2 separate regions of the Homo sapiens genome follow, and region 2 is linked to region 1. The links come from fine-mapping of genetic effects on gene expression. A gene starts in region 1. The other region holds a variant in brackets. All regions are shown on one strand. Distances are from middle to middle.

The links. PIP is the estimated chance that this variant, and not a neighbour inherited with it, causes the effect.
Region 2: its variant is fine-mapped to the expression of TCF21 in atrial appendage (GTEx, PIP above 0.99).

What each region holds. Positions count from the first base shown.
Region 1 is chr6:133,882,225-133,894,309 of GRCh38, reverse strand. TCF21 (transcription factor 21) reads right to left here and starts at 5,197. Exons shown (of 2, transcript NM_003206.4): 1 at 4,463-5,197; 2 at 2,053-2,597. The coding sequence starts at 4,912. The coding sequence ends at 2,508. TARID (TCF21 antisense RNA inducing promoter demethylation) reads left to right here and starts at 5,304. Exons shown (of 9, transcript NR_109982.1): 1 at 5,304-5,706. RefSeq lists enhancers at 1,226-1,834, 2,720-3,484, 4,736-5,649.
Region 2 is chr6:133,844,010-133,856,094 of GRCh38, reverse strand. It overlaps TARID (TCF21 antisense RNA inducing promoter demethylation), which reads left to right. Exons shown (of 9, transcript NR_109982.1): 2 at 10,144-10,218. LINC01312 (long intergenic non-protein coding RNA 1312) reads right to left here. Exons shown (of 3, transcript NR_027030.1): 3 at 2,103-4,898. Among named protein-coding and RNA genes, the nearest start is that of LINC01312, 29 kb to the right of the region's middle. RefSeq lists an enhancer at 1,183-1,921. The variant T/C (reference allele first, on the strand shown) is at 5,754.

The DNA.
Region 1 (12,085 bases):
AGAAAGCTCTGGACAAATTTAGAGAGCATTAGGGAGAGGTGCAAGGTGAAAGAGAGACAGAAAGAGAGAGAGAAAGAGTCAATAGATACCAAAAAGAGGTATTTTAGTTCGTGGAAAAAAAAAGATCATTGCCTGGATGCTATAAACATACATCCCTTGGAACTTCCTGCCTGAGACACTTTCAGTTTGGGTCTAGGCACAGATAATTCACTACCCGCCACTTAGTAAAAGTAACTGACATTTTCACGGAGCTTTTCCTTTACCAAGGGATTTTACAGATATAATCTCATCTGAGCCTCACTAAGCCTCTGTAAGATGAAAGAGGAAGGTCTGCATATAATGATTATTATCATTCTCATTACCGTTATCCCTGCTTGCAGAGATGGGAAAACTGAGGATCCAGGCTCTTTCAAGAAACAGCTAGTTGGATGCAGAACCAGGGTCAAATCTACGTGTTCCCTATTCATAGCCACATGCCTCCTGCCTAAAGCAAAGGCTTCAAATTATTGGTAGGGAACTATAGATAGCCATGAAGACTTTCTAAAAATCCATGTATAGATTGGGGTTGTAAGGGAATGAGCAAGAAAAAGTTATTTCTCTATGGATGGCCTGCCTGGAATCCTCAGAATTTAGAGCATTCGTTTTGTAAAAACGTGAGTGGGAGATTGGAAAATTTGCGAAACGTGAAAGGCAATCAATTGAATCACACTGGGGACTCTTTGATTTGAACTCTGGATAGGTTGAGGCATGGGCTCTATCCCTCTGGTAGAAAGGAGAGAACACATGAATTTGAGGAACGGGACTCTGGCCAGAGCTTGAAATGTGTTCTTGAAAGTCAAGTTGGGGTGGCGGTGGTGGGGTGATGGAAGGGTATCCTGACATCTTGAAAAGTCCTCCATGTGCAAATAGACAGGTGGATGAAGTCACCGAAGTTCTCAGCCCTTGGAGAATGGGGAATTGCGCTTGGTAATGTGGTCGCCACCCCTTGGTAATGAGGTCACTATTGCTGACAGAGAGCACACCTGGCAGAGCAGCTTCTCCAGTCGGGACCAGCCTAGCGGGATCCTTCCTCCATGGCCAGGCAGAGGGCTCCACCCGCGAAGCGGCCTGTGGGGTTGGTGGAAGGGCGGAGAAGCTCTCGCTCCAGGTACCAAACTAAGCCGAGAAAAAAGGGTAAAAAATCGAAAAGAAAGAGCAAATGAAGCGGAAGTTTCAAGGCTCTCTGCGAGGAATAACAGTATAAATAACCGAAGACGTCTTGTAAACACTGCGGTCATAACCCCGAACATTAAACAGCCCCGGTGGCATCTGGCGCATCGGCCGCCGCGGGCTGCGCTGGGGCAGTGAGGGAGCCGGGTCGCAGGCTCCTCGGCCTTGCTTCTCTGTTTATCTCAACTTAATCTTCCCTTAGGAGCTGTTCCGTAGCCTGGAAAATGTTTAAATTAAACCCAGTCCGCCGGAAGTCGTGGCGGGAGCTAAACGCACCCGCTAACAGCAACCAAAAGGCAGGCATGCGGGTTTATTGTTAGAATTAATTAATGGACTATTAATAAGAAATGTAGATAATGTATGCTGCAGAGCTTTGAAAATCCTGAAACACACCCTAAGGGTTATGGAATTTACATCTTTCATAGCTTCTATTATTTCTTCACTAGTTTGCAGCTATGCTCACACCTGGAAGGTGACAAAAGGTGGAGTTTACTTTCTCGCCCGTGTCAGCAGTCATACGGTGGAATCCATGAAAATTGGATTTCCTTTTTCTGGTGCGTTTTACTCTTGAACTGTATAACTGTGGATAACTTTAATACTGCCCATTCTTTGTTTTCAGTTATATAATTTCTATTAGCCTTAAAAGTAACCGATATATTTCTTTTTTAAGGTTTCAGTATAAAACATAATCTGCATCTTCATTATGAAACTCATATGCAATTTTCTTCTATCTCTAGAAGTTTAGATTGAGGTTTAAAAGAACCATTTTCATTATCAAGCTTCCCCATAGTTTCCCACTTTCTTATTCCAAATATTTTTAAAAATCACTCCAAATATCAGAGCTTTTAGCAATATAAAGAAAGATTTATTTTCAAAAGTAGCAAAACTTGTTTGAAAAAAATATATATCTTTAAGTGAATTACTTTATAAATGTGACTGTCAAAGTCAGCTATCCTATGATCTACATTTTACAACATATTGTACAAAAGATACATTGATAGGCTCTTATCTATTTATATATTTATAATTACATATTGCACTTGGACCAGCAAGGCTTGCAGAGTCATTCACGGTAGAAGTTAATAAAGTTAAATAGATGGGAATCTTTGTAAGTACAATTGATCTCCTCTGGTTTGGAAACGAATCTCCTCGTCGTTGTAAAGTGTTCTCGCGGGGTGGGACAGAGAGAGGAGCATTGCGAGGGGGAAGCAGAGACAGAGAGCACTGAGGGCAGGGGTCGCCTTCCCGGGGCCCGCTCCCCCCGGGAGCGCGCCTTTCCCAGACTCGCACCTCCAAGGTCAGGACGCGGTGGTTCCACATAAGCGGCTCGCGGTCACCACTTCTTTCAGGTCACTCTCGGGTTTCCCGGCCACCATAAAGGGCCACGTCTGCGGGAAAGAAGAGGGTGGAGGAGGTAAGTGGCCGTGGCGGAGGGGGTGGGGTGGACTCGGGGCCTGAGATGAAAGGAAGGGGGGCGGTGGGGGCAGGCGGTGCTCTGGAGAGACCGGTTATCTCTGCAATTTACTCCCGGTCCTAGCGCACCCTGCGGCTGCATAAAGCAAATAGCTGCTTTGGCGCCAAGTCACAGCTCGAGGTGGTGGTGGTGCTGGTGGTGGTCTTTTAGAATGAGAGCCAAAAGGGCTTATACTGGGTTCCTTGTGAGACTCAATGCAGGAAGCCCCGGGCAAGCCGAGAGTGGGAGAGTGGGTGGTGCTGTGGCACTGCCTGGAGGCAGACGCTTTGGCAGTCTGAGCCGGGAAGCCCAGAACGACCTTGTGCCTACTGGGCACCGAGTTCGGGGCGAAGCGCCCTCCTGGCCTCCTTCTGAGGCGGTGGTCGGGTTTCAGGGCCCTGTCGCTTTCATCGCCTTTCATCACCATCTATTTCCCTAGTCCGACTTTCGTTTCTTCCATCGCAAACACCGGCTTTGACTACAGCTTCTAGATTAATCACCACCTCTTAAGGAAAAAAAAATGCTATACTACATTGACTTTTAATTTAAGATCGTCTTCATGCTGGACTGAGAAAGTATGCTTTCTCTTCCTTTCTCCGGGCTGTTTTATAATAAAGCTCATTTAAGTTTCTTATTCAAAGATGAAGAGAGTAGCAGTTGTAAATATTCGAGGCAACACTTTCATTTTAGGTGGAGATTTTAAAAAGCTATTTACTCATTGGGGGGGAAAAACCCCAAACTTTCAATTGGAGAGAAAACATTTTTCATGGTAAAATGTGGGTTTGCATCTTCTTCTCCAGCAATTCCAGAAACCAATTCGGTGAGAAGACAATTCAGACCCCTCTCACTACTGCTCTAGTGCTAGCTGATAAGACTTGCCTTTTAAAAGGAAAAATCTCTCATTCTTATCATATACAAACAGAGATCCTAGTAAGTTGTTGTTATTGTTTTTCTTTAGATCTTAGAAGTTTTAAAATAAAATCAAATGAAAAAAATTAAGATATATTTCTTAAACAGTAAAATACATTTGAGAAAAAAGTAGACTCAATGATTATCAGTTTTTTGTGTTAAAAAATTAGGCTCAATGGGCATTACTTTTTAAGATAAAAGGTAACATTTCTTAAATCTTGGGTGAGAGTGACCTATTTTAGTATTTATTACACTCATACTAGTGAGGATTTACTGATTTTGCTGATCATTACTAGAACTTCTGGGATTTAAAAATATTAATCCACTTATAGGAGAAGCACAGAATATTTAAGCGGTTAAGGGCTTACGTGGACAATTTGGGGGGCATAGATGTGTCCTTATCCAATGGTCCTAAATATGCTTGTGAAAGAAACGGAGTTGGGTGTTTTTATTTACAAGGAAAGGAAAATCAAGTTCCACTCTCTGCTAAAAGAAGAAAAAAGGATTAACAAAATGCCTGTCCGCTCGCAGCGTCTTGTCAGTGTTCTCAGTTCCGCAGCAGCCACTGCACCCCAGGGAGGATGGCGATGGAGCGGGAGCGGGGGATCCCTCCTCTGTGCCAGCTCAACACACTTGCAAACTTTTAATTGGGCTGCCACGTCAAACCCTCGCATAAATCACTCCCGCTCCGGGGGCTGGTAGGGCAGAGAGCGAGGGCCGTGTCTAGACCGCCCGCCTCCGGTCCCTGGAGGCTCTAGGCCCGCGGTGGTCGAGATGTGTAAGTCACCGCCGCGCCCACACCCCCACTCCCAGCCCCGCGCGCACTCGCGCCCACCGCAGGCGGGAGTGCGGGCGCGCCTGGACTGCAGCTGCAGCCCCGGGAGCACTCACCAGGTTGACCGGGTGAATGTACCCGTTCTCGTATTTGTCGTTAGCCAGGATCTGCCTCAAGTGGGCGATGTAGCTGGACGCCAGCCTGAGCGTGTCCAGCTTGGAGAGCTTGGTGTCGGGGGGCACCCAGGGCAGGGTGGTCTTGAGTCTGGAGAAGGCCTTGCTCAGCACTCGCATGCGGGCCCGCTCTCGCGCGTTGGCGGCGTTGCGCTGGACCTGCTTCCCCTCCTGGCTGACCCCGCTCAGGGGGCTCTTCTTGGTGGGCGCCTTCCTCCTCTTGCCCAGGCCGCCGCGGCCCTTCTGGGGAGACCCATTCTCGCAGTTGGAGCTCTCCTCGGTGCTCTCGTTGGAAGTCACAAATTCCTTGTTCGAATCCATTTTCAACCCGTCACATTCCAACATCTCCACCTCTTGAAGGTCCTCCACATCGCTGAGGGAGCCGGTGGACATGTTTGGGGGAGTGGACGAGGGAGAGAGAGAGAGAGAGACAGAGAGACAGAGAAAGCGAGGAAGAGGGTGAGAGAGAGACAGAGAGACCCTGAAACCAAGAGGCCTCCCGAGTGTGGCGCAGCCACCTCCTGCTGGGAGCTGGAGTTGGGGTCTGGTTGGGTCTCACAACCCTTTCCCCTTCGCAGAGTTGTGAGAAGGAACCCCGAGGACTTCTGCAGCAGAGGAACCGGCTCTCTGTTTCCCCACTCCCAGAGTCGTGGCCGTAGAGGAGGGTGAGCGAGCGCTGAGGAATTTGGTGGACACTAGGAATTTATCTGGGGAATAGAGGGGCGGATCCTTGCAGCCCAGGGAGGGGCCTGCCAGGCCCCAGCAAAGCGCTTAGACCCCTTTCACAACCGGAGGGAAACTCAATGCACAGACCCTGATTTGCAACTTGTAATGTAAATCAACTCAACTGCATCATGTACTTACCAGCCACCTTCTCCCAACTGTGGCCGGGGCCGAGAAGCAGCATGTTCTGTCCATCTGTAAAAGGCCTTCTTTCTCTCTTAAGACGTCACAACTGGTTGTTACTGAGAACTTTAGAAAAACGACTAGATCGTTTGGCTCTTTCTGGGCCTTCCACCTACACTCCATGCCCTCTCTCCTCCCAAGAAAACACGAATTAAAATACAGGGAGTATCAACCGCATCCTGCCAACACCTCATAAGACTCCAAGGCTTTACCGAGATCTTCCACCTTCCCCGGGATAAATGAAGACAAGTGCTTCCTAGAATCTTTATGGTGATGGAAAAGTAAGTATAAAACATTTCACCTACACCTGGTCATTTTCAAGACATCAAAGGACTGCCTACGTGTACACAAACATACTTGATTTGCACACTCAAACCCAACCACACACAGCTTAGTGGGAGTGGGTAGGGAATGAGAGGGCAGTATGAGTGTGTGGAAAACATTATGTTAGTTGATCATCTTTTCCTAATAAATGGAAACTTTCCCCTCGGTTTTTTTTTCTTTTCTAGAAATGCATTTAATATTGCCTTGAGAGTCTTTGTTGCTCTCAGACATCACCTTGCCTGGCACTTTTTGTGATGCACCGTCCCTTTCAATGCTGCTGTCTTTGTCTTCTTCCAGCCTGTTAGGTGCCAGTGTTCCTCACATGAAGCTGACATTACACAACACAAAGCAAGACTATCCTTTTGAGAAAGGTTCTTTTCCATCTTTAACCCCAGCTCGAACCACCTTTCCTAGAGAATAAGAAAGTCTCCTGGGAAGTAGGTAGAAAAAGCACAGGGAAACAGAACCTAGGGATTGGATGAAATTGGTGCAATGAAACCAGGGAGACTGAAGGCATAAATCTCTCTTACAATTTCTTTGCCAGGTTTTCTTCCCTTGCAGGTAGGCATTGAAGTTGAGGGGCTGGAGCAAAATGTAAGAGTGGTTTCTGAGTGGTTGGCTTAGGGTCTGAAGGCTTCTCCTACATTAAGATATCATATCTCTAATCCTAGGCTCAGCTGGGAATTCACTAACCTCTAACGTTTTGTTTTGCTAGCAGGGTCTTGTTTGCTTTCCCCCTATGCTGTAAACTAAACAGGTTGTCAGCAAATCAGTCTTTATTAATGAATTAGCGACCCCTCTTCCATAATATCTTCGCTGAGGATCCAAAATTTGTTAATCACCAGTGTAGAGATTTATGAGCTCTCTTATTTTCTGTTGTTTGTGCAGGTGGAGATTTAAATGACCACATCCACCCTAAGATTTATTGTGAGAATGATTGATGTTATAAACCAGGAAAAGGACTCTTCCCACAGCAGGGATGACAGAAATATCAAGTTGAAGTTGCCTTTGTCTTCACATACGAATGACCCAGTACTACAACACAGAAAGTATAATAATTTAATCTGAGGTTCAAGACAGCAGTGAGAGAACACCCAGCAGGCCTGTTAAAAATTTCTTCACTAATTCCTCAACTAGTTTCCTTTGATTTGCTCTCCCTTTTCTCAGTCTTGGTAAAACATGAAAGTTAAAGTTATTTTTAGACTAAAGAGCTATGTGAAAATGGGCATTGGCCAATACTTTGTGAAATGTGTGTGTGTGTGTGTGTGTGTGTGTGTAGCTACTAAGATATCTGCAAAATAACTACAAATAATTAATTTGGGCTCTGGAATGTGATAATTATTATAAATCCAAACTATGGCCTTACTGCATACATTAAGCTGTGATTTTTCTTGTTGGAGCCATTTTTTTTTCTTTTTGGCTCTGGGTCTCTGTTACACCTTAGTTAATGGACTGCTCAGGCTGTCTGGGGAGATAGTAAAAATCATAGTAATATGTACCACTGAAAAGATTTCTGTTGTCTGTATATTTTTCAATGTTGGAAACTTAAAAGTACCAATTTCTGGAAGCATGTAAAACTAGCCTCATGTCATAGGCTGGTTTTTATGCTTAGCAATTATTTTTCTTCATAGCCATATAAGAAATAATTAAGTCCCATGTCCATTTATCTTGCAGTAAGACATTTGGGCTGAGAAAGGCTAGTGGGCTGATAATAAATTTTGGAGTGTTTCTAAAATTCTGTAAAAGATGGCTTCCAGTTTGGGAGTAAGAGTCGAAGAATACTGTTGCTTATGTATCTTGATATGAAGTCTTGGAGAGAGAATATTCATATGAAAAATACTTTTTTTCTTTTAAAATTTTGTGTCTATCCCTGCTAATAAACACTTAGGGACAAATGGGTGGGAGAAATGACTTCTTGTTGGATTCTACTGAGCAAGTCATTTAAGCTGTAACTTAAGCTGTGCCAAATTCTCCCAAAATATAAACTATATTCTGTGAGAAGACAAGCACTTTTGAGAAGCTGTATTAACCCTTTTGGTAAGTTGACCATTTCTGTTCCAAAGCACGAAATAGAAAACTCGTGATTTGAAAGTATGAGATCATTTCTAAAAGTTCTTACCTGACTTTTAAGAAACATTTATGCCCCAGAGGCATCTGGCCAATTTGCTGCTCACTTCTAACAATTTGTTTTGCAAGAGAGACTATCTTTGAAAGATTTTAGTGCTAAGGAAATTTTATCTCTGAAAGCTGTAAAATGAAGATTAGGCATGGAATGTACCCTTGAACTTAAATCCTGGTTTATCAGCTGATACATTTACAGGAAGTTCAAATTTGATTCAGTTGCACTTGGATGGAATAATTTGCTTCCTTTTTTATGAGAAGGAAAACATCATAGGCTTCCTTTGAACTGACTTCATATGCCATTACATAATCTTTCTCAGGGGAAAAATATGCCTTTAAATTTAAATGTTAATCCTTTTCTCTTACTCCTCATCATTTGGTCAGGAGACACAGGCTGGCAAATTGGCAAAACTGCCCATTCTCTTTTTTCTTCATTTCTAATTAGCACCTCCAGATGTTTTATTCATTTTATTTGATGGTAACTACCACCACTTCAAATATTTGCCAACTTTCTATGCAAAAAAAAGTTGACGCCTTTTTTTTTTCTTTTTTTGATGGAGTCTTGCTCTGTCACCCAAGCTGGAGTGCATCAGCACGATCTAGGCTAACTGCAACCTCCGCCTCCCAGGTTCAAGAGATTCTCATGCCTCAGCCTCCCGAGTAGCTAGAATTACAGGTGCCTGCCACCATGCCTATCTAATTTTTGTATTTTTAGTAGAGGTGGGGTTTCACCATTTTGGCCAGGCTGGTTTCAAACTCCTGATCTACCCACTTCAGACTCCCAAAGTGCTGGGATTACAGGCATGAGCCACCGTGCCCAGCCAGGTGCCTCTTTTTTGATTTTACATAATTATCTCCATATACTTTGTTTGCTGCTGATTGACTGTTGTCTATCTCCCGCTTATATGCCTATCAAACTCTGACTTTGTTTCATTAAATTTTAACTTTATTTAATAAAGTGAGCATTACCTCTCTTTGCTCATTCTAAATTATAGTGGTGCTGTCCTGTTATATTTTGGCAGCCAAAGTGAATATGGCACTAGTGAGCTTGGTGGCTAGCTAAGAAGGTCAATAACAGTGATGCTGGGTATTGCTGCTACCTTTACCTGGCACCAGCTGGGAGATGGTATAAATCCTGGATGGTATAAATCCATTCAGTAATTAGAAGTCTTCTGCGTGTTCACTATACCTTAACCCCCTCTTTTCACATTTAATTCAGTGAATTGTAGATAAGATGCCACATTGCTAAGATTTAAAGGTGGCAAATAACAACAATAAAGTCTAGGGAAAGATTCTGCATGGTTCTTTGAATCCAGGAGTTAATCTTGCATTTCACATGTTCCACAATACAGCTTTGAAAGCAGCCAAGCCTATGCACTTGAAAGTCAGAATTTACCCTAAGGTGTAAGTGGGCCAGAGAAAACTCGGGCAGACAAAGAGAGTTAAAAATTTTGCAAAGCCAGTTTAATGTCCTCCTAAGTTTTCTAATACTAGAATAATTTTATTAGACCCTGTCAGTGTTAGGAAAGAGAGAGAAAAGGACTGAGCGACTCCTGAGTCAGGTACCATGCAGGGACTTTTGCCTCCATTCTCTCATTTCATGTATTTTCTCTCCTTTCTGTTGGCACTACTAAAGAAAGAGCTGCCACATGAAATGAACAGTGTATTAGAAATGTATGCCAGAGGCTTTCCCCTGTAATAAAGTTTTAGAAAAACTGGCTTGAGTGATGACTATTCTGTATCTTAAAATAAAGCTTGAAAGCAAAACCTCCCAAGCTTTCACAAAAAGAATAAATCTTCTAGGTTGTATGGGAGACCTCTGTAATGCACTTATATGTTAAATATAGTTTATTGATGGGCATAAAACAATACAGGCCAACTTGCTGTCAGCCTCCTTCCTGTCAGCTTGGGAGAGTATGGGCACTGGAATCAAAGGCTCCTTCGGGTGATTACCTCTTTGGGATTATTTCCTGGTGGCAGGTGCTTTCAGCTTTGAGGAGACAAGAGTTGCAGGGTTTAGATCTTAGGACCAGCAGGAAAGTACTGAGTGTGAATCCTGACTTTAGGAAGATGAAATATTTCCAGGTGATGAAGCAGTTTAAAATAGAGACACAAAGTAATAGTTTGTCAGAATTGGATGGGGCTGGGGACCAAGGAGGCCATAAATAATCACAAACTCTGTTCCAGTGAGGTATCAGGGACAGTACTGCCCACCTGACCCTGTGTCCTGATTTGCCTCGTATTATTCCTTCCACTGAGTCACATTGCCATGAATGGTTTTTGCTGTTTGAATAATCATAGTAAATGTGAGAAAGCTTCTATTCTGTTATTCCCTATTTAGAATATGTAACCATTGATCCCGAAATTATACAAAATGAGATAGACTTGAGCTGTCCTGGGATATAATGCTTAGAACCCTGTCTAAGATGGTTTAAGTAACGTAATCGCCAGAAGGACTTTGTTAAAATAAAAATCTCATCTCTACCGTAGAAACCTGATGGGCCATCCGAGGGCCACTCATTCAACTAACATATCCCCAAATCTGCCCTCTTCTCACCATTTCCTCTGCTAAACACCGGATCGAGTCACTAAAGTCACTCAGATGATAACAGTCTCTTAAATGGTCTTTTTGTTTCCATTCTTGTCCTCTTAAAATCTATTGCCAATACAGTGGTTCAAGTCATTCCCCTGCTTAAAATCTCTTAAAGCTTCTCATTGTGTTTAATATAAAATCCACACTTCCTATTGTGGCTTGTATGACTGGTTTGCTTGCTACCCTTTAACCACGCCGGCCATGTCTGTGCTCCTCCAAGACACAACACCCATTCCTCCCTCAGGACCCTTGCCTTGCTGGTTTTCCAGTTTGGATGTTTTTGTCCGGCTCTCTGCATGGCTGAGCCCTTAGATTTCAGGTCTGAGCTCAACTGTCATTTTCATGTGAGAACTTTTCTGAGCATCCAATGAAGAATAGTTTTGTTCCATGATTCTATTTTATTTATTAATAATAAAAAGCAGTAGCTAACATTTACTGTTTATCACATACCAGGCACTGTTCTAAAGCCCTTTCCAGTTTAACAAATTTAGCCCTCATAAAAACTTTATAAGGTAGGAACCTTATAGATGAGAAAACTGAAACACAGATAAATTAACAAACTTCTTTAGTTCATAAAATTAGTGTTCTAGTCGTCTATTGCTGTGTAATACCCAAATTAGTGACTTAAGTTATTATTATTTCTCTTGGTTCTATGGGTTGACTGAGCAGCTGGGTGGTTCCCATGTGGGGACTGTCATGGTGTTGCAGCCAGAAGGCATCTTACCTGGCTAGAGTCATGTAAAGGCTGGACCAAGCTGAAATCAAAGGGGACTTCTTCATTCACACATCCAGGCCTCAGCTGGGATGGCAGGAGCAGCTAGTTCTGGGCCAGCATCTCTCTCCAGACGGCGTCTCCATGTGGCTTCCTCAACCTGACAATCTTAGGTGGCTGAAGTTCTAACACAGTAGCCAGCTTCCTTCAGAGTGAGCATTCCATAAGACCCAGAGGCAAGACAGAAGTCTTCTTATGACCTAGCCCTGGAAGTTACACAACATCACTTCTGCTTCATTCTGCTGGTCAAAAGTGAGTTCTGGGGCCATCCCAGATTGAAGAGCAGGGCTTGTATGAGAGCATGAATACCAGGAGGTATGGTTCAGTGGGGGCGGTGGGGGGTTGAGTGGGGGCCATCCTTGGAAGTTGGTTACCACAGTGCATAAATGCCAGAGTCTGGACTAACACACAGACAATCTGACTCTTGAGCCTTCACTTTAAACTACCATGTTCTGAAATTATTATTTTTTAAAATTTTGTTTACTTTGTTATTATCTCTCTGCCAACCCCTCTCTAACTATGATGAAAGCTTCGCGAGTACAGGGACTTGATGTGTCTTGCTCAGTTGTGTACTCAGAACCTAAAGCAGGGCTAATATATAATATGTACTTAATAGTTGTTGAATTAATGAAAGAATGAATGAATGAATGGATGGATATTTTATCTTTTATCTTTTTAAAAAAATTACTCAGCCCCCAATGTCAGATATTTTAGATTTTAACATTTGGAAGGTACACAGTAAACTGTAAAGTATAATAATTATTTAGAGTACTAATAAATCTTCAAAACAGAGTGGCTCAGACAAGCCACAGATTTACTTTTGTCTTTCATATCAATGCAGACCTAGGCA
Region 2 (12,085 bases), 38 kb after region 1:
GCCACATTGAACTTTCATCTTTCTAACTCAAGGGATCTGATTCCTTTTACTGAATAAGAAAGAATTTTATTCAATTTATTCTCCCAGTCTTAGGTCTTTAACCAAAATAAAAGCAAACAATTAAACAAATTAACCTCACTGCTTCATGCACGGCTTTTTAGATATTGTCCAAAAAGTACTGTTTCAGATCCTGAAAGCAAAGTGATTAGGTTTACTTGTTATCAACGGGGAGTTCTTGTTCAGAACTACGTATTTTAGGTATCTAAGCCTGCATATTCTGATAAGACAGCATTGGCCTTAAAGCTGAGGCAGCAATAAATTACATTAAAAGTAATAGACTTCTGGAAAAATAATTCCTTTTGATTGCATAGCAGTTAGAAATTTACCTATTTATGTTTGTGCGTAGATATTTAATACAAATGTCTCTGTTTTTAAAGGATTTTAATGTAGCACCTAATACACTAACAACAGAAATAAATAAAGTTCGGAAATACAGAACGAATGAATGTGGCAGTGGTTTGTTCTTTTCACGTTAGAGCTGTAGGAGCAAGGCTTGCAGGGTTTTGGAGCGGATCTACTGCAGAGTCGCTGAGACACCAAGGGTTGTCTGCTGTTAAGAACCAGTATATTTTAGTTACATTTCATATTAAGTGGAATTAAATTTCACGTTCAAATCACTTGTCAGCGCTTAAAAAAAAAAGACTTCTAAACGACCTCTCAGATATATGACCCGGATGCTGCCAGACCAAACGACTTTTATCCAGGTGGACCCTTCGGGGGTACTGGGTCACCTGCAGGGTAACCGGGCAGGATCTCAGATTTGGTGACCGTCCCAGAAGCTGGGGAGAAGGTGCCGCCAGAGAGTGAGCGGAAATCTCCCTTGGAGGCCTGGAGGCAGCAATACGAACCCCTCAAGCCGGGAGAGGGCACCCTGGCTGGCTGGGGCCGGCAGCGCTGCAGCCTCACGTCCGCAGGTGAAGATGCGCTCCCGCTGGGCATGCGCGCCCCCTGGGGCCAGGAGCAGGTGGGAGGTTCCTACCTTCCGCCCCAGCACCGCCTGAGGTCAGAGGGACTGTCCTTTCTTGCACTGCCCAATTTGTCAAGGTCCCGTATCGAATAAATAGCTGTCTCCCCAGACCTTTATACTGACTAATCCAAATAAATCGCAGTCACTTTTACTGTGCGTTTCAGCGGGCAGCCTGGCTTTAATGGCTCTGCCTCCTAGACCTCCGGGGGAGACTCGCCGCGGCTTCTGCGAGATCGTCAGCTCCCCTGGCTGGCCTCAGAGCCTCAGCCTCCCCTCTGGGTTTCGTGGGGTCACTGGGAGCGGTCGCAGCCCATCCCCTGCACGCTGGCACTATCTGCTGACTGGAGTTGCCCTCTGGGGTTCCCAGGGCTAAAAGCGAGGGTAAAGCCTCCCATCTTCAATGTGCGCCTGTCTAATGTGGGCTCTCCTCTGAGATCTTGTTTACTCCCTACCTTTCCACCCTCTTCCCCTGCTCCTCTAAACCTCAGAAATTCGAATTATCTTCCCCATTCCACTTAAACCCCTTCGGCCAATCAATCCGGATGTTACCGATTTCCTCTGGGATATTTAAAGCTTTGATCCGCAGGCTTACAGCTCCATCTTACGCACTCCCATCTTTCCCCTCTGGGATCCCTCTAGATGCCTGCTCAAAATACCTGCTGGCGCCAGAGGAAATTCACATGTAACAGATACCCAGCGGGTGTGAAACCAGCACTCTGCTTCCAGGGTCGTTTTCCTCCTCACCTTCCCCATCAAATTGTCGATTAGTGAGTGCTAACACTAGGCATTACTGTGAATCATGAGTGCGGGGCTGGAAGATATGGAACCGTTTTAATAGAGCCGATGATTGCTAACTTACACGTGGCATCGCGCACTCCACCCTCCCCTACTCGGGGCAACCCTGGGTGCCCGACGTCTGTAAAATTAATATGAGCCCCAGGATTGGTCCGCAGGTAGCTTTTGTAAAGGGGTCCAGAATGACTTCAAGCAAATTTCAAGATATCTAAAGTAAAAGATAATTATTCACTTGCTTCTAAAACTGTTACTGAAGTAGAAAAAAAATCAGAGGAAAGCAGTAAATCTCACTCATTTTATTTTGGTGAAAACAAACTACTAGGAAGATTTAACAGGTAACATCAATTTTGCAATGAATTTATTCCAGATACCTTTTATATTTCATATATAAGGTGAATTATCCATGAAAATAACCACTTTATATGAATGCAGATGGCCAGGATGTTGAAAAAAATGAAATTGGCTTCAGAGAGAAACAGTAAATATAAAGGGAGACACACTTTCCCTCCCTAAACATTTGCAAGAGTGTCAGGTAGGTTTTATTTGAGCAAATAACCTTATTGTAATATTTCTTTTCAAAAAAGCAAAAACTGGTAGTCCATTCATAAAACTTTTTTTTATTGTTGTCGTATTTTCTCATTCAATTTGTTATTTAATATCTGATCTTTTTCAAATTTTACACTTTACAAATCATTTGGCATACATGTGATTATCATCAAAACTGTTGAACTTTATAAAATACTGAAAAAAAGTATGTGTTGTGTTTATATTTCTAAACATTTGAATTTCTTGGGGAGATAGTGGATAATCCCCAGTGGTTTTATTTGAAAATCTCACCTGACAATTGTCTTTCAGAGGAGGTGTGGCTCTGGAGTTGTTTCTGCCTGGCTCTGTCTTTGTGCTGCTGACCAGAGCTCTAGGCTCTCAGTAGAAGCTCACAGAATTCCTTTTGATTGATGGCGAGGGGTGATGGCCTACGCAAAGGTCTCTACTTCCAACTTCCCTGTCTTCTATGGCGGCTCCAGATTAGCTCAGTGGGTGTGGGGTGGAATTTTCAGTCAAGATGCATGATGCCTCACGGTTTACTTTCTACTATAGCATCACTCTTATGGTTAAGAACTTCTGGAATGCTGTTGAGCAGTTTCCCCATTATCGATTTTGGAGATCTTGGCCTATGTTATTTAGAGATGGGTTTTAAACAGTGATAAAGTTAAGGTACAGATTTACACTGAGAGTTAGTAAGATCTTCCTTTGGAAAAAGATCTACCACATTTCAGAGGTTTGGAGCTGTTAGTTGAGCCAAGAATGACATATAATTTTTGTTACTTGAGGTCTTTCTTGTTTATCAAGTTTTCCAGTTTGCTTTTCTGCCAAACAGAAATGGCAGAAAACATCAGCATATGAAAATTTTAACTAGAAGACAATATTGTCTAGGTTCTGGGAAAGCTAGGATGATTTTAAGGAGAATACCAGGGAGAACATAAGAAATACTTTACAAATTACATTTAGATGTCAGTGTTATAATTGTTTCCTGAACCTTTTAGAGAACTTGAGGGAGGAACTAGGAGCAGGAGGGAGTTTCTTAGGATTATCCAATTAGATTTCTAAGTTTTCCATTATAGATTTTTTGTTTGTTTGAGACAGGGTCTTGCTCTGTCACCCAGACTAAAGTGCAGTGGTGCAATCACAGCTCACTGCAGCCTCAACCTCCTGGCCTCAAGGATTCTCCCACCTTAGCCTTCCCAGGAGCACACTATCACGGTTGGCTAATTTTTGTATTTTTAGAAAAGACAGGGTTTCACCATGTTGCCTAGGCTGGTCTTGAAGTCCTGGGCTCAAGCGATCCACCTGCCTCGACCTCCCAAAGTGCTGGGATTACAGGCACGAGCCAACAAGCCCGCATATGGAATGTATTTGATGGTTTAATTGTGCAAGGTCGGTTAAACTGATTGGATTTTCTCACTCCAGAGTTTGGTAGGTGGCAGAGCATAACACTGTTGTTTGAGATATTAACATCCTAAAAATAAGTCACTTTTTGATAACACCTAAGGTAAAATTATTAGCTTCAGGTTAATAAAGCATGAAAACAAAGTTTCATTTTGTTAAAGCTGAGGTAAGTTATTATAGCATTAGAACAGACAAAAAGGAACAGCAAATGAATGGGGAATAAAATATTAAGATCAAAACAATAATTTAATGCCAATTGTGATGATTGTATCACTTTTGATTATCTTCTTTTGAAAGTAAAATTTTAAAAAGTGTATTTTACTTTGTAACTGTCTCAGTATTTGTTTTTTAAGGGAGAGATTAAGAAAACCCTTAAAAACAGTTTTGAAATACAGGAATTACATTATCAAAAAAGTACAGCCAACAGTAGTTTTCTAGTGAATTTGAGTTGTGTAGGAAATTAAGTAGGTAATGGTGCCTCCAGATAACAAATCTAACCTCAGATAATTATTCAAGCCTCCTCTCCATGTTTTCACCAGAAACCTCTTGCTCACTGGCAGTCACTCCTATTCTCCTCTCCTGACCCCAGCCCTATACAACCACTAAACTATTTTGTCTTTGCAGATTTGCCTACTTTAGAATTTCATATAAATTGAATAATACAATTTGTGGTCCTTGATGGCTGGCTTCTTTCACTTAGCATATGTTTTTGAAGTTCATACATGTTGTAGCATGTATCAGTAATTTATCCTTTTTAATGGCTGAATAATATTCCATTGAATGGATGCACTGCATTTTGTTTATTCATGCATCAGTTGGTGGGCATTTCGGTTGTTTCCATTTTTTGACTATTATGAATAATGCTGCTGTGAACATTCATATCCAAGTTTTTGTGTTCTCCGCCTTGATTATGTAGATAGTGCCATGCATGGCTTGGTCTGTATGTCCATGTGAGATTATGAAAATTTGCTCTCTACCTTGAAAGAAATAGAATTCTAACCCAAGTTTTTCCTGTTCATTTACCAGGCTGAGAGTTGTTTTCTCTGATACATGCATGTGGTTTATCTCTAAGAAGTACCATCGGAATGAAGAGTTGTCTATTTATTTGAACCAGTTGGAAACAAGGGATCTAGAAAACAGAAAAATATTTGTTTTGTTTGCAGATAGGCAAATTAATATAATTAACCAAATTAAGTTACTTTCAAGTGTTAGGAACTAACTATGTTTGCTTATGGACTTTCCATCTGGTACAATTTGGATGATTATTTTTTGATTCTGCTAATCCCTAACTCTTGGATGCTTGCTATTGTAATTCCTATGCAGAAGGCTCCCGATTTACAATGGTTTAACTGAACAATTTTTCAATTTTACAATGGTGTGAAAGCAATATACATTCAGTAGAAACCACACTTTGAATTTCGAGTTTTGATCTTTTCCTGGCCTAGCAATGCACAGTAGGATACCCTCTTCTGACACTGGGCAGTGGCAGCAAACTGCAGCTCCCAGGCAGCCACGATCACAACAGTAAACAACAGATACTACACAGTGCACTGTAGTCAATAAATTACATGAGATATTTAACACTCTATTATAAAATCCGCTTTGCATTAGATAATTTTGCCCAACTGTAGGCTAATGTCAGGGTTCTGAGCACACTTAAGGTAGACTAGGCTAAATTATGCTATTTGGCATATTAGGTGTATTAAGTGCATTTTCAACTTATGATAGTTTCAGCTTACAATGGGTTCATCGGAAGGTAACTCCCATCTTAAGTCAAGGAGCATCTGTATTCCCATAGAATATGCATCTTACACTTTAGGTAGTGTTCTATTCCATTTGGTAAGCATAGCTTCTTTAACCTTTTTTTTGGTTTGATCCTATCAAGGAATATCTAATTTCTATGGCAGCAGGCTTATTTGTTTTTGTTTGTGTGTGTGTGTTTTTAGGAGGTTTAGCAGAATACTTCTGGTATTCTGTCTTGCAA[T/C]GGTGACGAATCTGGCTCACCATGTATTTTAAAACAATTAATGTTTCCAAAGTAGAACTCCAGGGACATAACATGGTATGATATTGGATTGTATGAATGGCTGTTAACACTTATACATGTTCTCTGTAAAAAGGGGTTATACATTCATCCAACAGATATTTATTGATTTCCAACTATAGCTATTAAAATCTCTGCTTTAGGATATTATAAAAGTGTTATTTATTACACAGATTCACCTAGCACCTCTTAGACTATCTGAGACCTTTTGGAACTCAAAAATTACATGGAACATGATCTGTAGCACACAGCAGTTCACTATCTTTGAAATAACGAATGTAATTCCAACTGAATTAAGGTTTACATTGCGCAGAGTTAATTATAGAGCTAGTGGTTATTACTACATAGTTAATACACATTAATAATTGCAGATAATTCAGAAAACTTACTTTGGTAGGATCAGCAACACTTTTGCAAAAATCTCAACATATATCATTTGTTTTGTTTGTTTGTTTTTTGTATTTTTTTTGAGATGAGTCTCACTCTGTCGCCCAGGCTGGAGTGCAGTGGCGTAATCTCAGCTCACTGCAACCTCTGCCTCCCCGGTTCAAGCGATTCTCCTGCCTCAGCTTTCAGGGAGCTGGGACTACAGGCACATGCCACCACACCCAACTAATTTTTGTATTTTTTGTAGAGATGGGGTTTCGCCATGTTGGCCAGGCTGGTCTTGAACTCCTGACCTCAGGTGATCCGCCTGCCTCGGCCTCCCAAAGTGCTGGGATTACAGACGTGAGCCACTGCGCTTGGCCAAAAATCTCAACATATATAATGTTTCAAATAAAATAAAGTAGATCTCTTTCAATTAGCAAGAAAGAATCTTAGACAGATTCTAGTTATTCAGGCAGCTATGGCGTCAGGGTTAAAATAATAACCCCTGAAAAAGATGTCATTGACTCTTTTATAATCTCAGCAATCCAGATCCAGTATTTATATTTTGTTTGAAAGAGAACATGGGCTTTCCTGAACTGTGTAAGCTGTACAGTTAATGCAATAAGATTCAACAGGATTTTAGAGCTTTCCAATTCCCTTTCTCTCATGTGTGATCTTGATTAAATGCATCTATGTTCTAAGCCTTGATGCAAGCTTTATCCCTTACCTTGAAGTCTCTTTTTAAAAACTTGTATAGGCAAGAAGTGTGTTTTGGAATTGGGTACAGTTAGTTGTCTGAGTCAGAATTTTAAACATGGCAGCATGGTTCTTGCAGTATGGAGTTCAGGTGAGGATACTTCACTCAGTTGACATCTTAATGGCTAAAGCTTTTTACTGTTTTGTCCTGACTAGCACTTCAAAAGATACTCTACACAGCAAACATTCCCTTAAGTGTTGGAAAGCTTGGTTCCAAGTGTGCTTCTACATGGAACCAAGGATATTTGGGTGTTGAATACTGTAGGAAGGTTCTTTGGTGCAATGAAGAATGTCGGAACTATTTGACAATGTACTTGGGCACACCAGACATAGGATTCTTCATTGCACAATTATTCTCTAGCAATTTTCTTTGCAAGAAAAGAGACCTGACTTTCTTTCATGGATATAAATAAACTTAATATTTCTTATAGCTGTGCATATTTATCTTCTTAATGACACAAATTTATAACATAAATATGTTATTTACATATCCCAGGACAAGTAGCAATTTATAACATAAATATGTTATTTACACATCACAGGACAAGTAGCATCTTGACAAACTGTCCTCAGAATAGAATACAGTAACTAATAGAATACAGTAATTAATCTTTGTGTGTGTGTGTGTGTGTGTGTGTGAAAACAAACACTTCTTTAATAATGACTTTTGAAAAAAATGATGAAAAGTTATAAATGAACAGTCAGTGTTCAAAAGAGGTTTCTGTGATTTTTATAAATGCATAGCATCTTACAAACACTATAAATTAGTTGGTGGATATTTAATATGATAGAAACTATTCCATCTGAATTTTCTAGGGAGGTCAAAGTTACTTTGGTATTGTAACTCTTTTAAGCCAAATTAATTGGGTTATGTTTCCTTTTTTTTTCTTTTTCAACTTTTATTTTAGGTTCAGGGGATACATGTGCAGGTTTATTACATGGGCAAATTTCATGTTGCTAGGATTTGTTGTATAAATGATTTTGTCACCGAGATAGTGAGCACAGTACCCAAAAGGTAGTTTTTTGAACTTCTCCCTCCTCCCCCACTCCACCTTCAAGTAGGCCCCAATGTTTGTTGTTTCCCTCTTTGCACTCAATGTTTACCCCCCATTTATAAGTGAGAACATGTGGTATTTGGTTATTTGTTCCTGCATCATTAGTTCACTTAGGATAATGGCCTCCAGCTGTGTCTATGTTGCTGCAAAGGTCATTTAATTCTTTGTTATGGCTGCGTAGTATTCCATGGTATATATGTGCCACTTTTTCTTTAGCTAGTCCACCATTGATGGGCATCTAGATTGATTCCATGTCTTTGCTATTATGAATAATGCTGTGATGAACATACATGTGCATGTGTCTTTTTAAACTATAGGTATTTTGACATTAGTAGTATGCAAATCACTTTCTAAAACCATTGTATAGACTGTCTAATGGTTTCCAGTTAAAAGACACAAAGATAAGTGAATAAATAAGAGAATGAATGATGGAATAAATATACTATAAAATCCAGATGTCTGTTGTCTTTGCAGGAGGGAAGAAAAAATTTATCATGGACTTTTGAATCTAATTAGGAAATTTGCATTTTATCATCTTCTCTCTTGTTTCCTTGCACTATAAGAATACAAGTTACTATTATTACTACCTGGACAGTTAAACAGTTTGGGCTCTTTTACTATACAGGCATTAAGGCTCATGTTCTAGGGAAGAGGGAATGAATACTTGGAAGATGAGCACGTATCTCATTGGGAATTTAAAATGTTTTAGTTTAATTCTTTTGTAGATTCTGTGTTAATGGGTGGGGGCTGGATCTTGATGAAAATACAGAGGACAAAGCAACTGTCATAAACACTGATCTTCTCACTTTAGGAACCTGAGCTCTATTATTGTCTAAAAGCATGAGTGCCCAGTAAATGTCCAATGATTGCTTGAATAATTACTATGCGTTCAGATATACAACTCTGTGCTTTTGTGTGTGCACATGTGTGTGAAAAAAGGAGATATAAAAGAACTTGAACTTGCCACTCTGTAGTAACTAACAAAATTAGGTACATAGTGCTCAAAATAAAATTTCATATTTAGGATTGTTAGAAGAATAAACAGAAAGAAAATTATTAAATTGTTAATTTTGTAATAGGAGACAGAATAAACTCAGTTTTCACTATAGTACAGTATTCTTTTAGCAGCAATCCTTACAAAATATCAACTGAAAATCAATTACATAATTTTTCCTTCAAGGAAAGAGCTCATATCTTTGGTTTCTATTACTCCTGTGTTTTTATTGTCTTTGTATATTTAAAAGATGGGCTAGGACATCAATGGACAAGTCCTTGGAACATTAAAAACTATTATTCTAATTTCCTTCTTTTAAAAATATGCATATTTAATCTATTTTGGAACAATTTGGAAATTCAGGAAGCATAAAGTAACAGATAATTATAACCATGACTCAATTCTGATTAAATGTCATAATATGACTATCTTTCTTTTTTCAATGGTTGCCTCTTCAATATGCTAAGTAATGAACACCTTCTATACATTACACATACAACGGAAAGATTACAGGATCTCATTGTGCAAAATTGGTATAAATGAATGCCTCTTAAACTTCTGCTACTTTGCATGGATAAACAGAAATAATAACAAGTATAACAAATAGACCAACATTTCTTCTTTTATTTTGAAATTGAGGGAAATATGTCCAGCTGGTGGTAAGAGCTACACATTGTTTTATTTCAGAGGAAATGGAACTTTAAAGAGTTATCTGTGTTCCTTTGGGTTGTAAAACTTTCAAAATATGTACTAAAACAAGAAATAATAAATTATTGTTGTATACAGTTCTTTTTTCCTAGGAAAGAACAGTGGAAAGCTGAGAAATTATTCAGTTCAATTGAATCACTCTTATGAAATAAAAAATGCCGCCCTAAGAAACTGTGACTTTTATTTCAGATAACCCAAACCTGTCAGGGTGAACCCAATCTACACCATCACTTAAAGCTGACAGGAAAAAAATGTATACTATAACTTTTAGTTTAAAAAAATACCACTATGTATGTTTTTATAAATTATTCAGTCAGAATTAAAAAATTATGTATCATTCAATATTAACTGAACAATTCAGAATAGCAGGTTTTTGTAGTTAATATTTGTACAAGCTTCTAATAATTATTAAAATGGCCTTTATTTGTTTTTTCTTGCCACTGACCTATAGGATATACTAAAAGAAGACAGATCAGTCTCTCTCCTGATAAGAAGAGTCACCAAGAGGAACATCTGCAACAACTAGGTTGTGAGGAATTTCTTTTTTAAATGTACATAAAAATATGTTAATGTACACTGCCTTGGGTAGATGAGATGTGTTATTTCTTTAATAAGTTTGCAAACATTTACAGAAAAACAGTACTTGCTTCTTTATTTTTTGTAAAGAAAGGAATTAGTAAAAATGGAAGTTCCAGAAAATGCTAATTTCTTAGAATAAGATCTGTTTAAATTTTTCCAGTGCATAACAAAACACTTAAAACATTTTTTCAAACATTAAATTTAACATACTATGTTTTAGAAAATATGTGAAAGCAACCTGGATTTAGAGGGTTTAGATCAAGCCTTTGAAGTATCTTAAATCTCCTTGAGACCTAAAAGACTTGTTTATAACTAACAGTTGCTTTGTAAAAACAACATTATGAGATGTTTGAAAATTTTCTTGTTAAATTTTTATAAGAATATTTCGGTTGGGGAAGGAAGCATCTGTATTGCAAGATGATTTCTATTATTGATTTATTTAATCTCAGGAATGGAGAACAGGATGCCTTGCAGGGAAGTTTATCTGTGACTTGTAAACATGAAGCGACTAAAAATATGGAAAGTTCTATCATCTTTGGATGGGCCTAATAATTTCTCATTATGAGTATAAGACTAGTGATATGGCATCTTTAGTAGATTTTTGTGTGTCTTTTTTTTTGTAAGACTACTGGAACTTAATCCTGGTTCACCCAAGTTTGAGAGTACACTGTGAGACTATTGAACAGATCAAACCTACTAACATGTAATTTTCTCCCAAGTTTTGCTTTTAAAGTGATCAGAATTTATTTAAAACAGATTGACATAAGAAACTTATTTGGAAATAAAGTCTGCATTAGTATTTGGGACTATTGATAGGGAGAGAATTTTTTTCTAAGAAAAACATTTCACTGTCTTGTTGTATAATAGAAGAGAGTTTTTCACATTTGCTCTGTGCCTCACTCACTCTTGGCTATGTACTTTTGTAACATTGTCAGACTTTGCAAGAGAAGGCCAAGGAACAGAGGGAGATTCAACAAATATACCACATTCCAAAATGCCGAGTTCTTATTTCTCTACTATGAATTAGTCTGCTAGTCATTTATTTCACTAATTAAGTCCTCCAGGAAAATGTGAACTTAAATTTGTACAGCTGTTGAATCCTAAAGTAATAAAACAGTTAGGTTTTAATTAAGAGATTTAGTAGAGGGTTCAATATACTTTGCATGTTACTTATATTATTAATATATACTTTAGTATATATTAATACTAATATAAATATATTTAATAAACAAATATATTTAATATTAATACATTATCTAAATCTATTTAATGTATATTATATATTATCTAAATATATAAATATAGATGAATTGCACTTATTTTTTCTCTGTTCGATCACATACGCATTCTAGAATTTTCAGAATTGGTTGCAGTGACCCCCATCGTTTTCCTCCTATTTTCTCTAGATTCATTATTCAGACTATTAACTTATAGTCTCCAATACTTTGTCCTTACATCTCAATAATAAATGTATTTTGATCTATTTCTTTCTTTAGATTTTGAGGGCTTTATTATTACAGGGTAATAGTCCTAGATTTCTTAATATTTTGGGAATTCTATCGTGAAATTACTGAGTGATTTGGGGAAAGCTATTTTTTTGGGAAGAATTGCTTTGCATTTGGTGTTTAGTTCTGTGTTTTTAGTCCTAAACCCTATACTCATGACAAATTGGACATATTTGTGCTTATGTTGAAAAAACTGAATTGAGATTAATCTTTTTCTTTTTTTTTTTCTTTTTTAGACAATCTTGCTCTGTCACCCAGGCTGGAATGCAGTGGCACAATCTTGGCTCACTGCAACCTTTGCCTCCCTGG